Linked DNA regions of Homo sapiens: region 1 is reported to be linked to region 2. The links are microRNA targets in miRTarBase. Many come from high-throughput screens and were not tested one by one. Region 2 holds a microRNA gene; the other region holds the end of a gene's coding sequence.

Region 1 (7,324 bases), not on the chromosome of region 2:
CTTTTCTTCAGGCCATCCAGTGAAGAGAGAGAGACTGAAATATCTCTGAAGGATTCTACACTAGATAACTAGGTTGACATACCTGGAATATAGAGAACACTTGAGAAGTTTGTAATGGTTTTCATTTGAAATAGACTGCTGAAAGTTTTAAATTTTTATAAGCATAGGTTTGATGTTGAAAACTTGTTTTGAGGGAGAAAATCCCTTTGTTTTAAAGTAAAGTAAACATTATCGCTAAGTGTACTTGTGCAGTATTAACAGCTACATTATACAGTAAATGTGGGATAAAATCCATTTAGAAAATGTTAAACTGCTTTTCCAGACATGGTTGTAGCATATTTTCAATTAGTGTGTGTATGTTAATGTGTAATTGATAGTAGAACAAAGTTACATTTTTAAAACTGCTACTTGTATAAACCTTGCCTCTTTTCCCAAATACTGTGGGTTTTGTGCATAGTTTTTACAAACCTTGGATTTACCAGACTGTCTTTTCACTGTTTGTGGGTTTTGTAGAAGTTACACATTTTTATGGTAGATAAAATGTTACTTCTATACAAGTACTCACTCCCTTTTTATCAAAAGTTAATTTTAATCTCACAGTCTACATTGTGCTACATTATCCAGCTTCTTTGGAACAATGTGTGCTCTGTATGGTTTTTTTTGGTATGACAACTAATTAAGCAACTGACATGGAACTGAGAATTCTACAAACTATAAAACATTAATTTTTGAAGGTAATTTAGTTTTGTGGCTGGGCATTCAGTGAAGTCTTAGGACTTCTTTGCAGACAACTGACTGGGTATATATAGGAATGAATCTGGCTTTAGGGTTAAATCATTTAAGGTCCTTTTATAGGCAGGCACTAGTAACTAAAACTGAAAACTAAGTAAGTTTATTTTTGAGGAATGTTGTTAAAAATGTCTTTAGGAAGTCACTAAAACTTAATTGGAAGAAAAAATCATGATGCTTATACAATAAATATGAATAAATGTTATATAAGGAAACTCACCTATTTGAAATCATGGCTATATTGTTTTTATTTTCTAGATTCCAAAAATACAAACACTAGTTGTTCCAGCATTGTACTTTGATAAGTCTGTACATTGACGTGTATGGACTAAATCCAGGGTAAAATCAATGTTACAAAATTTAAGGGTATGTTAACTAAAGGATAGCATTTCTAAGATATTTTGAATATTAGGGTCATTTGGCACTTCTCAGCAAGTAGGATACTTCTCATGTTTTGAAATTATATGAATATGGAAAAAAATGGCTTAAGACCAGCGTCTCTGTATGACATTGTGTGGTTGACCCTCTGAGATAACTGTTTTCATCTACAGAATTGCATTTTTGCTTTTAAAGAGGTCTTATAATGGAACTAGGAATCACCGTTTTGAGAGAACCTGCATATATACCAGTCATTATCTGTTTGGTCCTTATACAGTTTTAACTTACTTAGATTTATTCTAGTTAAGCCATAAGTTCAACGTGTAAACTTGTTTTCATTAAAGAATTTTTCTATCAAACTCTGCTAGTAAATTACTTTCTTGCTATTTACAAGAGTAAGTGATGGAATTCTGGGTTTGCTGCCAAGGAAATAATTTCTTAGTTAACTGGTCACAGAGGTTGTGCTGTTTTGGGAAACGGGGTAACTAAACAGTAAGCTCAAGATGATAAAAAATAAAGGTAATATTTATCTTTTGTTCACCCTCCCTTTCTTCCCATGACCCACCAGATCTATAGTTTTACAAAGAAGCCACAGAATATTCCAATTCTAGAGATAGAGCATCATTCTCATAATTTATGTCAGCTTGTACAGGCTGACCTTGCTCTAACTAGTTGATGTATGTTCGCTTCAAGCATAATTGCTGTTTCTTTAATCATAACTCTCAAGAAATGGTGTCATAGGCTGATTTACAGATAACTTCTCAGAACTCTTGATAATTATTCATAAGACTTAAGAACTTTCAGGATCATTGAAATTGTTCATTGGCTCAATTTGTGTGTGTGGTCAAAACTCCACAGCTTGACAAGGCACCAAAAGGTAATTTTGAGATAGATAACCCCCACCCCACCCCACCCCACCCCACCCCACCCCTCCAAAAAGTACGTGTAATATGTATGTTTTAACACCTCTTTTGGGCTGGTATGTGTGTGTATGTACGTATGTGTTTTGATTACTGGATAAAAGAGTCATACATCAGCCGGGCGCAGTGGCACGTGCCTGTAATCCCAGCTCCTCGGGAGGCTGAGGCAGGAGAATTGCTTGAACCCGGGAGGCAGAGGTTGCAGTGAGCTGAGATTGCCCCACTGCACTCCAGCCTGGGAGACAGAGCAAGACTCCATCTCAAAAAAAAAAAAAAAAAAAAAAAAAAAGAGTCATACCATGACCAAGCAGAACTGACCATTGAAGGTTTTCTTAGCTGCTTGGAGAAATTGCAGATACATCTATCTGAATCTGAGAACTGACTGGGATTTGGTATGTGAACAACTGGAGAGAACCATACACTTTATAATTAATATTATATCCAGTGATTTCAAATAATATGATAGATTTTGCTGATACAGTACTGCTGTCTGTGTTCCTACTCATACACTTACCTGGTTACAGATGTTAGGTCAAGATGAGGTCTGCATCTAATCCTGTATAAGAGCAGAGATTTTTCATAGGGTGCTGTGAGGGCTTTGCTAACTCTATTTTGTCCGATTGGCCAGAAAAAGGATGCTCTAATGGAAATAGCAAACCTGTATCATTAAACTCTTTAGAAACAAAGAAACTGGTTTAATAGGCAGAAATGTGTTTATGTTTGTGTCGTGTAATTCTGCAACACAATGTTAGAGATGACTGACCTTTCTCCTAGTAAAACTAGAATGTCTAATTGTCCTTAAATGGTACTGATGCCTGAAGAATGTTTAAAGAAATAGCTATTGCTTCTCTAGTAACTTCTGTGCATGTGTATCCACTATTATATAAAAGTCAAATTCAACTACCAAGCAGGTTGACATGTTCATGACAACATTTTCAGTTGCCTATCTTCATTAGCTAATGTGTTACATGTAATTTGACAGGCGTGTTACATTTGATTGAAATAAGCATAAAGAAAAGCTGCCTCGAAAAAAGAGAAAAGCTGTCTTAAATCAGGGGTTTTATAGCTCCAGAAATATACAAAGTTAGGAATTTCTTTTGACTTGAACTTGGTGGGATACCTGTATAACTGATACATAACACACGGGCAAACTGTGGGAGTAACCTGGTTGATTAACTTTTCTCCTCAGTTTCACCAGGGAACAATAATAGGTACCTGAGTCTTTGATGAAAAACTTAACCTTAAGAACTAGCAAAATAACATTCTCAAATAATTAATAAAGAATCCCAGTAGCAGAAATGTTTTAACTGGCATGTTTCTTCTTTGTCCGCTAAAATGTATTGACACCACACATGGAATAATGCATTATGACAATAATTAACTTTTTGAAGTTTGGTGTTTTGAGAGTATGAAATGAATGAATAAGATAAAATATCCTTGCATATGCATGTAAGACCTATAAGGAACGCAGTATTGAAAATAAAGGAATCAAAATTTTTACCCATGGAATTTTAGGGTTGGGTAAATCATTCATTTATCTTAAATCTATGGTTTGCTGGCAGTTATCAATCTGCTCAATTTTAGCATTGTTGTATACAAGAAAGTAAAAATTTAGGTATAACATAAGCCAGCCTCTTAAGTTCTCTATACTGATTATCTGTGTACTGACTGAATCAGTGAATGAGAACACTAGACATACCAGAAACTCGTGCTTGTCATCTCCAAGCCAATGGACTTAACTGTTTGTGGCATTTAAGTCCATAAAACATACTTCACTGTCAAACACATAGGCTTATAGGTTTCGTCAGTTTTCCATGTGTAAGATAAATGTCTGTTCTTAGCCATCCAGATATTCAGTCAAATTTAAATACAACCTAGGAGAGAGAAAGTGGAATTTATTTATTTTAAATGATGCATTTGAAATCTATAGTATTCCTAAAAGTCTTCTAAACAGTATTAAATGTTCTACCCATAAAGGTTCCCAGAAAATATTTGAATAAATCTATCTGATGGTCTAGACCTGAAAATAAAGAAAGTTTATTTTGCTGGGCGCTGTGGTTCATGCCTGTAATCGCAGCACTCTGGGAGGCCAAGGCGGATGGATCACTTGAGGTCAGGAGTTCGAGACTATTCTGCGCAACATAGTGAAACCCTGTATCTACAAGAAATAAAAAAATTAGCCCGCCATGGTGGCCTGTGCCACCATGTCTCAGCTACTCGGTAGGCTGAGGTGGGAGGATCACCTGAGCCTAGGGAGGTCAGGGCTCCAGTGAGCCAAGATCACGCCACTGTACTCCAGCCTGGGTGACACAGTAAGACCCTATGTCAAAAAATAAGTTTAAAAAGTTTTGGTTTTTTTTTTTTTCCTCAGAATAAGATGAGAGTAACTAGAATTACTATAGTAAGGGGACCAGAAGAATGGAAGACCTGGGCCAGGAAAACTTATTTTTTTTCTTTTTGCTTATATAATTTTGGTATATATCCAATAGTATCATTACCGGAGAATAAGTGAGCCAGAGCTAGCAATCAATAGGATCTTGATTTTTCCATGTCCCCACAGTCATACGAAATCTGCTATTGTTTTTTAAATCATAGTATTAAATTGACATATTTTAAACTCATAACATTCATAAAGCTTTTGTCAAGAAATAAAGCTTCAAGTTAATGTTATTTCTGGAGTTATGAGTATATACTCAAGATCTTTTTAAATTCATTATTCACATAGTCTTATTAACATGTCTTGTATGCCTAGTTTCCTCCAAAACAAAACCTAACATTACTAAACAGCACACTAAGATTAAATTCCCCCAAAGCAGCCGGGCGCGGTGGCTCACGCCTGTGATCCCAAAATTTTGGGAGGCTTAGGCGGGTGGATCGCCTGAGGTTAGGAGTTTGAGACCAGCCTGGCCAACATGGTGAAACCCCGTCTCTACTAAAAATACAAAAATTAGCCAGGCATGGTGCCAGGTGCCTGCAATCCCAGCTACTCAGGAGGCTGTGGCAGGAGAATCACTTGAATCCGGGAGGCGGAGGCTGCAGTGAGCTGAGATTGCGCCACTGTATTCCAGCCTGGGCAACAAGAGCGAGATTTTGTCTCAAAAAATAAATAATCCCAAAGCTATTAATTTTGTCTTATTTGTAAATAATTCATTCTCCCTAGTTTCCATTACAGTTATTTGAAGGATCTTTACCTTGGAAGCCTCATGGTAGAAGGTGTAGCTCTCACATTCTTCAAAGAATTTTCAAAACACTTCCACTACTTGATGTATCATTAATAATTCTATCTTTAGCAAAAAACTCTGGACAGAGAATGAATAGGGAAGGCATGGATTGGGAGAAAGAATATGTGTGTCTGACAAAGGATTTAAAGTCAGAATATATAAAGTACTACAACTCAACTCAAAATGGGTAAAAAGCACTAAATTAAATACTATCTGGAATAAATATAAAATTAAACTATGTTATAAACATTTAAATACTATCATTATAAGAAAATCTGTCATTTGGACTTTTTTTTGATAGCTTTAGCGGACTGTTCAAAGTGGATCCTGTTCCTCAGTGGCGTTTCTTAGAAATAAGGTAACCATCCAAGAGAACAGTTATTTCATGAGGGGGTATTTTTGTGAGTGTAGCTATTCTTAATTAAAGGTTCCAGGATCAACATAAGGATAAGCAAGGAATTCCCCCAGTTTGTTGCCTTCTGAATCATAGTGCAGCATTCGGAAGCAAACATCACAAAAGAAGCATGGGTCCTCTGGTGCAAAACTGTCATTGTTCGTCACCCATCTGTAGTTTTTAAAAAAAGAAGTACATCATTACAATCAAATTTGCCATACTTAACATGCTTTATGACCTGTAGCAATATGTAAATATAACATTCTATTTCCTTATCAGTCTGTTATTAATGCATAATAATCCCTTAATTTTGTATACATAGATACAAATACATCACCACCAATACTCTCTCTACAAAGCGAAAGGGCATCTAACATTAAGAAACACTGCAGAATGCTGTTTCTCTGTAATACTTACCCTTAAAGGAAGAATATAAATCTATTTGAAAGCATCACACATTTGCCACGACATACCTATCCTCCAAGTACGAATATAGTCATTTTCTTCTAACAGACCATCTTGAAAAACCATGGCAAAATTAGATGCTACAAATCTGATAGACTTTTGCTTAATATACCTTCTTAACTGATAAATGAGTACTGGTTAATTTGAAAACTATATAACTCTTTTTACCTAGAACTCAAGATTATGTTATAAAGTATATACAAATAGCAATATGGGCAACATTATTCAACCAAAATGTTGAATGGCATGAAGATGCTATTGTATGGTATGTTTGAATTCTGCATCTCATGGAATGTTTGCTTTTAACATTATTTTCACTTTGATTTATCATGTTTTCCTATTGATCTTTCAGAAAAGAATATTGTGGTGGGGTGGCGAAAACAAACTGAAGATACAAGTTGAGTATCCTTTATCTGAAATGCTTGGGATCAAAAAGAAGTATTTCAAATTGCAGATTTTTTTCAGATTTTTAAATATATTATGCATATATTTGCCGGTTGAACATCCCACTGAGAATTTGAAATCCAAAATGCTCCAATGATCATTTGAGCATCAGATGTTGCCACTCAAACACTTTCAGGTTTTGGATTTCTGATCTTGAAATTTGGAATGCTCAACCTGTACTAAATTTCCTTTCCTCTGAGTGGCTTTCAGATTTTTTTTATATGTTTTTTATAGTTACTGCTGTGTTGTCCAGGCTGGTCTCCAGGCCTCAAGCGATCCTCCCACCTCAGCCTCCAAAAGCAACAAATTTTTTTTTTACTGACCCACAGTAAGAAATGCCTTATAATCTAAACATGTAGAATCACATAAAGTAAAAATTTTATAAAACTATATTTTAACTTCATGTGATGTACTGTGGTTTTATTGATGAAGTTTTATTGATGAAGCTGATTATGTAAACTATGTGGACAAGAGGCAGAAAGAACATGGCTCTCGAGCATTTTGGATTAAACAAGGTTTTCTTTGGTTAGACTTCCCAAATCCCTTTATGGTAATGTGCACTGTGACCCTCTAACAGGGAGTTATTGTACAGAGCTTTTCTTGAATGTATTCTATCAGAGAATTCTTTGCTTTGCTTAACACTAGTGACTTTTATTTTTATTCACCTAGCTGTATACATTTTACAAGCCTGAAATTTGACCTATCCCTGGACT
Region 2 (7,366 bases):
TCTTGTATTAGTTTGCTGAGAATGATAGCTTTCCACTTCATCCATGTCCCTATAATGGACATTAACTCATCCTTTTTATGGCTGCATAGTATTCCATGGTATATATGTGCCACATTTTCCTTATCCAGTCTATTATTGATGGGCATTTGGGTTAGTTTCAAGTCTTTGCTATTGTAAACAGTGCTGCAATAAACATATGTGTGCATGTGTCTTTAGAGTAGAATGATTTATAATCCTTTGGGTATATACCCAGTAATGGCATTGCTGGGTCAAATGGTATTTCTGGTTCTAGATCCTTGAAGAATTGCCACACTATTTTCCACAATGGTTAAACTAATTTACACTTTCACCAACAGTGTAAAAGTATTCCCATTTTTCCACATCCTCTCCAGCATTTGTTGTTTCCTGACTTTTTAATGATCACCATTCTAACTGCCATGAGATGGTATCTCATTGTGGTTTTGATTTGCATTTTTCTAATGGTGAGTGATGATGAGCCTTTTTTCTTATGTTAGCTGGCCACATAAATATCTTCTTCTGAGAAGTGTATGTTCATATCCTTCACCCACTTTATGATGGGGTTGTTTGTTTTGTTTTGTAAATGTGTTTAAGTTCTTTGTAGATTCTGGATATTAACCCTTTGTCAGATGGATAGCTTGCAAAATTTTTCTCCCATTCTGTAGGTTGCCTGTTCACTCTGATTTGATAGTTTTTTGTTGTTGTTGTTTTGTTTGTTTGTTTTTTTGCTGTGCAGAGGCTCTTTAGTTTAATAAGATCCCATTTGTCAATTTTGGCTTTTGTTGTCATGCTTTTGGTGTTTTAGTCATGAAGTCGTTGCCCATGCCTATGTCCTGAATGGTATTACGTAGGTTTACTTCCAGAGTTTTAATTGTTTTAGGTCTTACATTTAAGACTTTAATCCATCTTGAGTTAATTTTTATATAAGGTGTAAGGAAGGGATCCAGTTTTAGTTTTCTGCGTATGACTAGCCAGTTTTCCCAACACCATTTTAGTAAATAGGGAGTCCTTTCCCTATTGCTTGTTTTTGTTAGGTGTGTCAAAGACCACATGGTTGCAGATGTGTGGCGTTATTTCTGAGGCATCTGTTCTGTTCCATTGGTCTATGTATCTGTTTTGGTGCCAGTACCATGCTGTTTCGGTTACTGTAGCCTTGTAGTAGAGTTTGAAGTCAGGTAGCGTGATGACTTCAGCTTTGTTCTTTTTGCTTAGGATTACCTTGGCTCTACGGGCTCTTTTCTGGTTCCATATGAAATTTAAAGTAGTTTTTTCTAATTCTGTGAAGAAAGTCAGTGGTAACTTGATGGGGATAACATTGAATCTATAAATTACTTTGTGTAGTATGGCCATTTTCATGATATTGATTTTCCCTATCCATGAGCATGGAATGTTTATCCCTTTGTTTGTGTCCTCTCTTATTTCCTTGAGCAGTGGTTTGCAGTTGTCCTTGAATAGTTCCTTCACGTCCCTTGTAAATTGTATTCCTAGGTATTTTATTCTCTTTGTAGCAATTGTGAATGAGTCCCCTCATGGTTTGGCTCTCTGTTTGTCTATAATTAGTGTATAAGAATGCTTGTGATTTTTGCACATTGATTTTGAATCCTGAGACTTTGCTGAAGTTGCTTATGGAGGTTTTGGGCTGAGATAATGGAGTATTCTAAATACACAATAATGTCATCTGCAAACAGAGACAATTTGACTTCCTCTTTTCCTATTTGAATACCCTTTATTTCTTTCTCTTTACTGATTGTCCTGGCCAGAACTTCCAATACTATCTTGAATACGAATGGTGAGAGAGGGCATCCTTGTCTTGTGCCAGTTTTGAAAGCCCATTTTGCCCATTCAGTATGATATTGGCTGTGGGTTTGTCATAAATAGTTGTTATTATTTTGGGATATGTTCCATCAATGCCTAGTTTTTTGAGAGGTTTTAGCATGATGGGGTGTTGAATTTTATCGAAGGCCTTTTCTGCATCTATTGAGATAACCATTTGGTTTTTGTCATTGGTTCTGTTTATGTGATGGATTACATTTATTGATTTGCATATGTTGAACCAGCCTTGAATCCCACGGATAAAGCCTACTTGATTATGGTGGATAAGCTTTTTGATATGCTGGTGGATTTGGTTTGCCAGTATTTTATTGAGGATTTTTGCATCAATGTTCATCAGGGACATTGGCATGAATTTTTCATTTTTTTGTCTGCCAGGTTTTCATATCAAGATAATACTGGCTTCTAAATTCCCACAGGAGAAAGTGGGAAAGATCTAAAATCGACACTCTAACATCGCAATTAAAAGAACTAGAGAAGCAAGAGCAAACAAATTCAAAAGCTAGCAGAAGACAACAAATAACTAAGATTGGAGCTGAACTGAAGGAGATGGAGACATGAAAAACCCTTAAAAAAATCAATGAATCCAGGAGCTGTTTTTTTTTTAAAGATTAACAAACTAGATAGACCACTAGCCAGACCAATGAAGAAGAAAAGAGAGAATAATCAAATAGACACAATAAAAAATGATAAAGGGCATATCACCACTGATCCCACAGAAATACACACTACCATCAGAGAATACTGTAAACACTTCTATGCAAATAAACTAGAAAATCTATAAGAAATGGACACATTCCTGAACACATAAACCCTTCCAAGACTAAACCAGGAAGAAGTCAAATCCCTGAATAGACTAATAACAAGTTCTGTAATTGAGGCAGTAATTAATAGCCTACCAACCAAAAAAGCCCAGCACCAGAAGGATTCACAGCCAAATTCTACCAGAGGTACAAAGAGGAGCTGGTACCATTCCTTCTGAATCTATTTCAAACAATAGAAAAAGAGGGGATCCTCCCTAACTCATTTTATGAGGCCAGCATTATCCTGATATCAAAACCTGGCAGAGACACATTTGGTTCTTTTAAGCAATAGATTAGCCTCAGTTTTAGTATGGTACCTCTCTCAGAATCAAAAGACTGGACCATCATAAAAATCACACTCTCCCTTAACTCACTATTTTTAAGATTAATCACATTCACATGTATTTTTTTGACTATTTCTAAGGGAGACTGTGTTTTATTCACTGCTGTACTGCAAATGTTTTCTTTCCCTTCCCATGAATATTTCTGGAAATCTCCTGTGTTTATTTACTTAATTTGCTTTGTTTTATAGTTTACAAAAGGGCCATTGTAATATGGTATGAAGTTTGTATTCTTCAATAAAACTTAAATCACTAGTTATTCTCTAATACTATAATTGTCAATGATAATGTCTTCTGTGTAAACCTGGCAATTTTCACTTAATTGCTTCCATGTTTATAAAAGACATAAAAGATGATTAACATCTGGTCTACTGTGGAACAGGCCTTGGAAATTACTTAAATAACTTTCCGTTGATACCTTGGGCCATAATCACTAATGGCTTATATAACTTGCAAATGATTCAAATCATTTTATTCCACAAATATTTAGCAAAATAGTAGCAAAAATATGACTTGGCTTAAAACCGTCACTTATTTATTGAGGGCATTGCATAACTTAAGCTAATTATGATTGTTAGTTTTAGATAAATGCATTAGTAGGCTTCCCTTTGGCTCTTGAAATGAATGTTTCTCAAATCAACTTGCCATAGAAAACTTTAAATGATCCTATTTTAAAATACCAGATACAAAATATACTTTAATCAGATGCAAAGGTCATTTCTATTTTCTCTAGATTTATCTTATTTATACTGAAAGATGGAATGGTATGATGTAACATGGCCACCAATCATCAATGAGATAAAATTTAACTCAAAAACATTCACTTAATTTTAGAGGCATTTGTGAAAATACTGTAACAGTGAACTTTTGAAATTTAAAGGAATGATTCTAATTAAATCAGTGACTTTGCCACGTATCAGAAACACCTAGTTAAAGTTGCACTTTTTGCGTTGATAGGATGCTCAGCTATTAGGTGTCACAGTATTAATGCTAAAAGCTGATCTGAAGCAGGGAGATTAGGGATTGCCAAAGTGGTATAAATCAGTTAAGAGTGTTGCCTGCAGGTCGTATTTGTTTCTTTTTATTTTATATTACTTTTCTGTACAGTCAAAGGATAAGTAATTTTTGTTGATGTGAAAATACATTGTTTATTCCTAGTAGCCCCACTATATTTTATTTAATAGCCTTAAAAATTTTCGAAATCACTGCCTTACTTTGTTCCTACCAAAGAAAATGTAATTTAATAAACCAACTTTTGTTATATTTAAAGCATATAATGATGATTGTTCTAAGGGGAGTTGCATTTTAACTGTTGACGCCAAGGCCAAGATAATTATTTGCCTTAAATAATAACTACAATGGAAGAATTATAGGCATATTTAAAATAGAAAAGGTGTTTAATAATTGTGATTTTAAACATTTAAAAATTAGAAAAAGCATTTGGAAGAAAATTAAATATTCCTATAATTTCGTTAACCAGAGATATACCCTGGTGTTATTTTGGAATATTTTCTTGTATTTATATACTGATGATTCTTGAGCATACATAATTTTACTTTTTGTTATTTTATTGAGAAAAGAGTGAAAATTAATACATAAATGTTTTCCTTCTGTTAAGGGTTCCTGTCTAAGACTCCCTAAGCACTGATAGACTGCCACTAAACACTCATCCACCAGGAGGAATAGAAATTTTGAAGCAATTAAACCTTTAAGTTTCAAATTTCTGCCCAAGATATAAGACAGTGTATTAATCCCTCTTTTCCCGCAATATCTTCATCTTAACTTCTCTTTGCTTCCCCTTCCACAACCTTAACCTTCAATGCTCTCGAACCTTCAAAATCATTCCTTTGCATTGTGTTCTCTGTAACAACAGCAACAAAAACAGCAGCTCTGGCATCTTTCAGTTCTGAACAAGAGGTCGTAAATGGTAGGTGTTTCTTGCCTAGAACAATGCAACCTTGAAGGATTCAGAAATGCAAGTTGTATATTCTCTGGGTTGGGAATTGAGATGAAGAGTTTGCTAAATCTCAAATGCCACTTTTACTATCTTATGTTCCAGTGTGGCTCAGGCTTTCTGGATATTTATGAATTGGTGCCACTAAATATCCAGGTCTCCATTCTTACTGGGCCCTAAATTCTGCTCAGCAATCCATCTTCATTTTCCTGCACATTCTTCTGTCAGAAAGAAAATATTTCATTATTTTTCTACTTTCCTCAAACCTTAGATTTCATTTTCTCTCCTCTTGTGCTCATAAGATACCTTACTTCCATCCTTAGACAGTACCAAATAGAAATAACTTTTATGTTTTGATGTGAAACGTAGGAACTTAACATAAACAAAGTCTTTCTCCCTTCTCTCTTTTCTTAACCAGTGGAAAATGTTGGCTCTGTTTGCATTCAGATTTCCTTCACTTCCACTATTGTATACAGTATTGATTATTGTGTATGCTGTTGATTATTATCCTTTCTTCCTTTCTATTGGTGTGTTCTCATGACCTTCAAATACCTTCAAGTTATTTTTTAATTGAAAAAATATTGCTTTATTGTAATGTTTCTGTTACCATGTTCCCCATTTCTCTGTTAAAACAAGCACCACTGTCTCCATATCTTTACTTCACTAATTTCCTATTAATGCTTCAACTTGAAACAATCTGACTTCTGCCTGTAGTATTCCACTGAAACATCCGTAAGTTATCCAGTAACTTTCCTATTGAGGAGTCCCGTCATTTATTCTTAGCTTACTTGACTTCTCCATACTTTTTGGCACTTTTTTTTTTCTTGAATCCATCTGCTTGTCCTCTCTTACTCTGCAAACTCCTGACATTTTTTTTCTGTCCCTATAGTCACTACTTCTCAGATATTCTGTATGGATATCTTCTTATTTAACATATTTTCCAAGAACACATCTTCCACTAATTTTTTTCCTCAATACTCTTTGTCCCTCGGTGATATGCTAAGACTAACCAATATCAGCTAACATGCCAGATCTCCTAGAGACTCATACTCTTCCATGAGAATGGACAGGAGCTGAAGTCTACAACAGGAGCTAGATGTCTCAGAGGCTCTTCAAACTCAGCCTCTTTACAACTGGATTCCCTGTCTCTTACATAAAACCAATTTTTCTTTCTATGCTGCCTACTTAATCCTGAAAATTATTCTTGACTCCAGCACAACGAGTCAAGAAATCTTGTAGAGTCTAATTCTAACATGGCATGGCTGCATTCACTTGTCTCCACCTCTGTAGCTACTAGTATGGTTCAAGTATACGTTTTTTTCTTCCCTATACCAACAATCTGCTAACTCATAACTTTTGCCATCAGTCTTGCTTTCTTCCAAGCCATCTACCACACTCTAATAAGCCTGATACTTCAAAAACACTAATCTACTTGCCTGAGTAGCAAACTTAAATCCTTTCAAAAAATTTTACTCGCTCATAGAATAAATTCCTTAACATGCATGATCATGCTTTGTCTTACCTCTCCAACTTCATTTCTCACAAGCTCTTTTTGCACACAGAAACACAATGTGTGTACACACACACACACACCATAGATTTCCTTCAAATATTACTGAATTCCAATTTCCACTTAATCCTTGTTTAACTGGTGTCATCATTCTATTTACCTGTAGGATTTTGCATAATCTGTTCTCTCATATCAATACTATTCTCTACTTTAACCCCTCCCTTTCTAACTGTTGGTCATCATTCTTATCTGTGTCAGTCAGAACTAAAATATGTTGCAATAAATCTTAAAGTCCTATAGCAACAACAATTTATTTAGGTGATTTATATACAAACTATTTAAGACATCACTGTCACTCACTTTCAATGACTCAAGCAAGACATACAGCTATTTCTAAACTCAAGGGAGAGTAAGGATTGGAGTGAGGAAGTACAATACTACCAAATACAAAGAAGGAAGATAATTAGATTATTTGTGAAAAGTATCCAAAAAGAAAACACAGAAAACTTATGAGCAGTCCTAAGGATATGCATATAGTTTCAACTTCAATAGCATTTCATCAGAAAGTTGCCAACATAACCCCCCAGCAGGTCCTAGATAGGTGCCTGTCTGAGTACTTCCATATTAAAAGTTCTTCATCATGTAATTTATGGAAATGCATTGTATGCATTGTAGTTTTGTAGTTTTGAAAAATTGTTTTAGAGACAAGATCCCACTCTGTTATTCAGGCTGGAAAGCAGTGGAACAATCATAGCTTACTGTTGCCTCAAACTCCTCAGCTCAAGCAATTTACCCACCGCAACCTCCCCAAATAGCTGTGACTGCAGGCATGCACCACCACACCTGGCTAATTTTTTTTTTTTTTTTTTCTCAAACTCTTGGCCTCAAGCAGTCTTCCTACCGTGGCTTT

What was found. The annotated mature microRNA hsa-miR-302f reads UAAUUGCUUCCAUGUUU and lies in region 2 at 3,312-3,328, shown strand. An mRNA with a match to its seed (bases 2 to 7 or 8) in the 3' UTR can be bound and repressed. Matches are read on the target gene's strand: a 7mer-m8 pairs with bases 2 to 8, a 7mer-A1 pairs with bases 2 to 7 and ends in A, and an 8mer does both.
Region 1: the mRNA of SNAPC3 is a reported target of hsa-miR-302f. The part of its 3' UTR that is shown has no 7-base or 8-base seed match.

The regions. Positions count from the first base shown.
Region 1 is chr9:15,458,268-15,465,591 of GRCh38, reverse strand. It overlaps SNAPC3 (small nuclear RNA activating complex polypeptide 3), which reads right to left. Exons shown (of 9, transcript NM_001039697.2): 9 at 3,966-5,873. The coding sequence ends at 5,726. It overlaps PSIP1 (PC4 and SRSF1 interacting protein 1), which reads left to right. Exons shown (of 16, transcript NM_033222.5): 16 at 12-1,526. The coding sequence ends at 72. Among named protein-coding and RNA genes, the nearest start is that of SNAPC3, 39 kb to the right of the region's middle.
Region 2 is chr18:30,295,625-30,302,990 of GRCh38, forward strand. It overlaps MIR302F (microRNA 302f), which reads left to right and starts at 3,286; the gene lies at 3,286-3,336.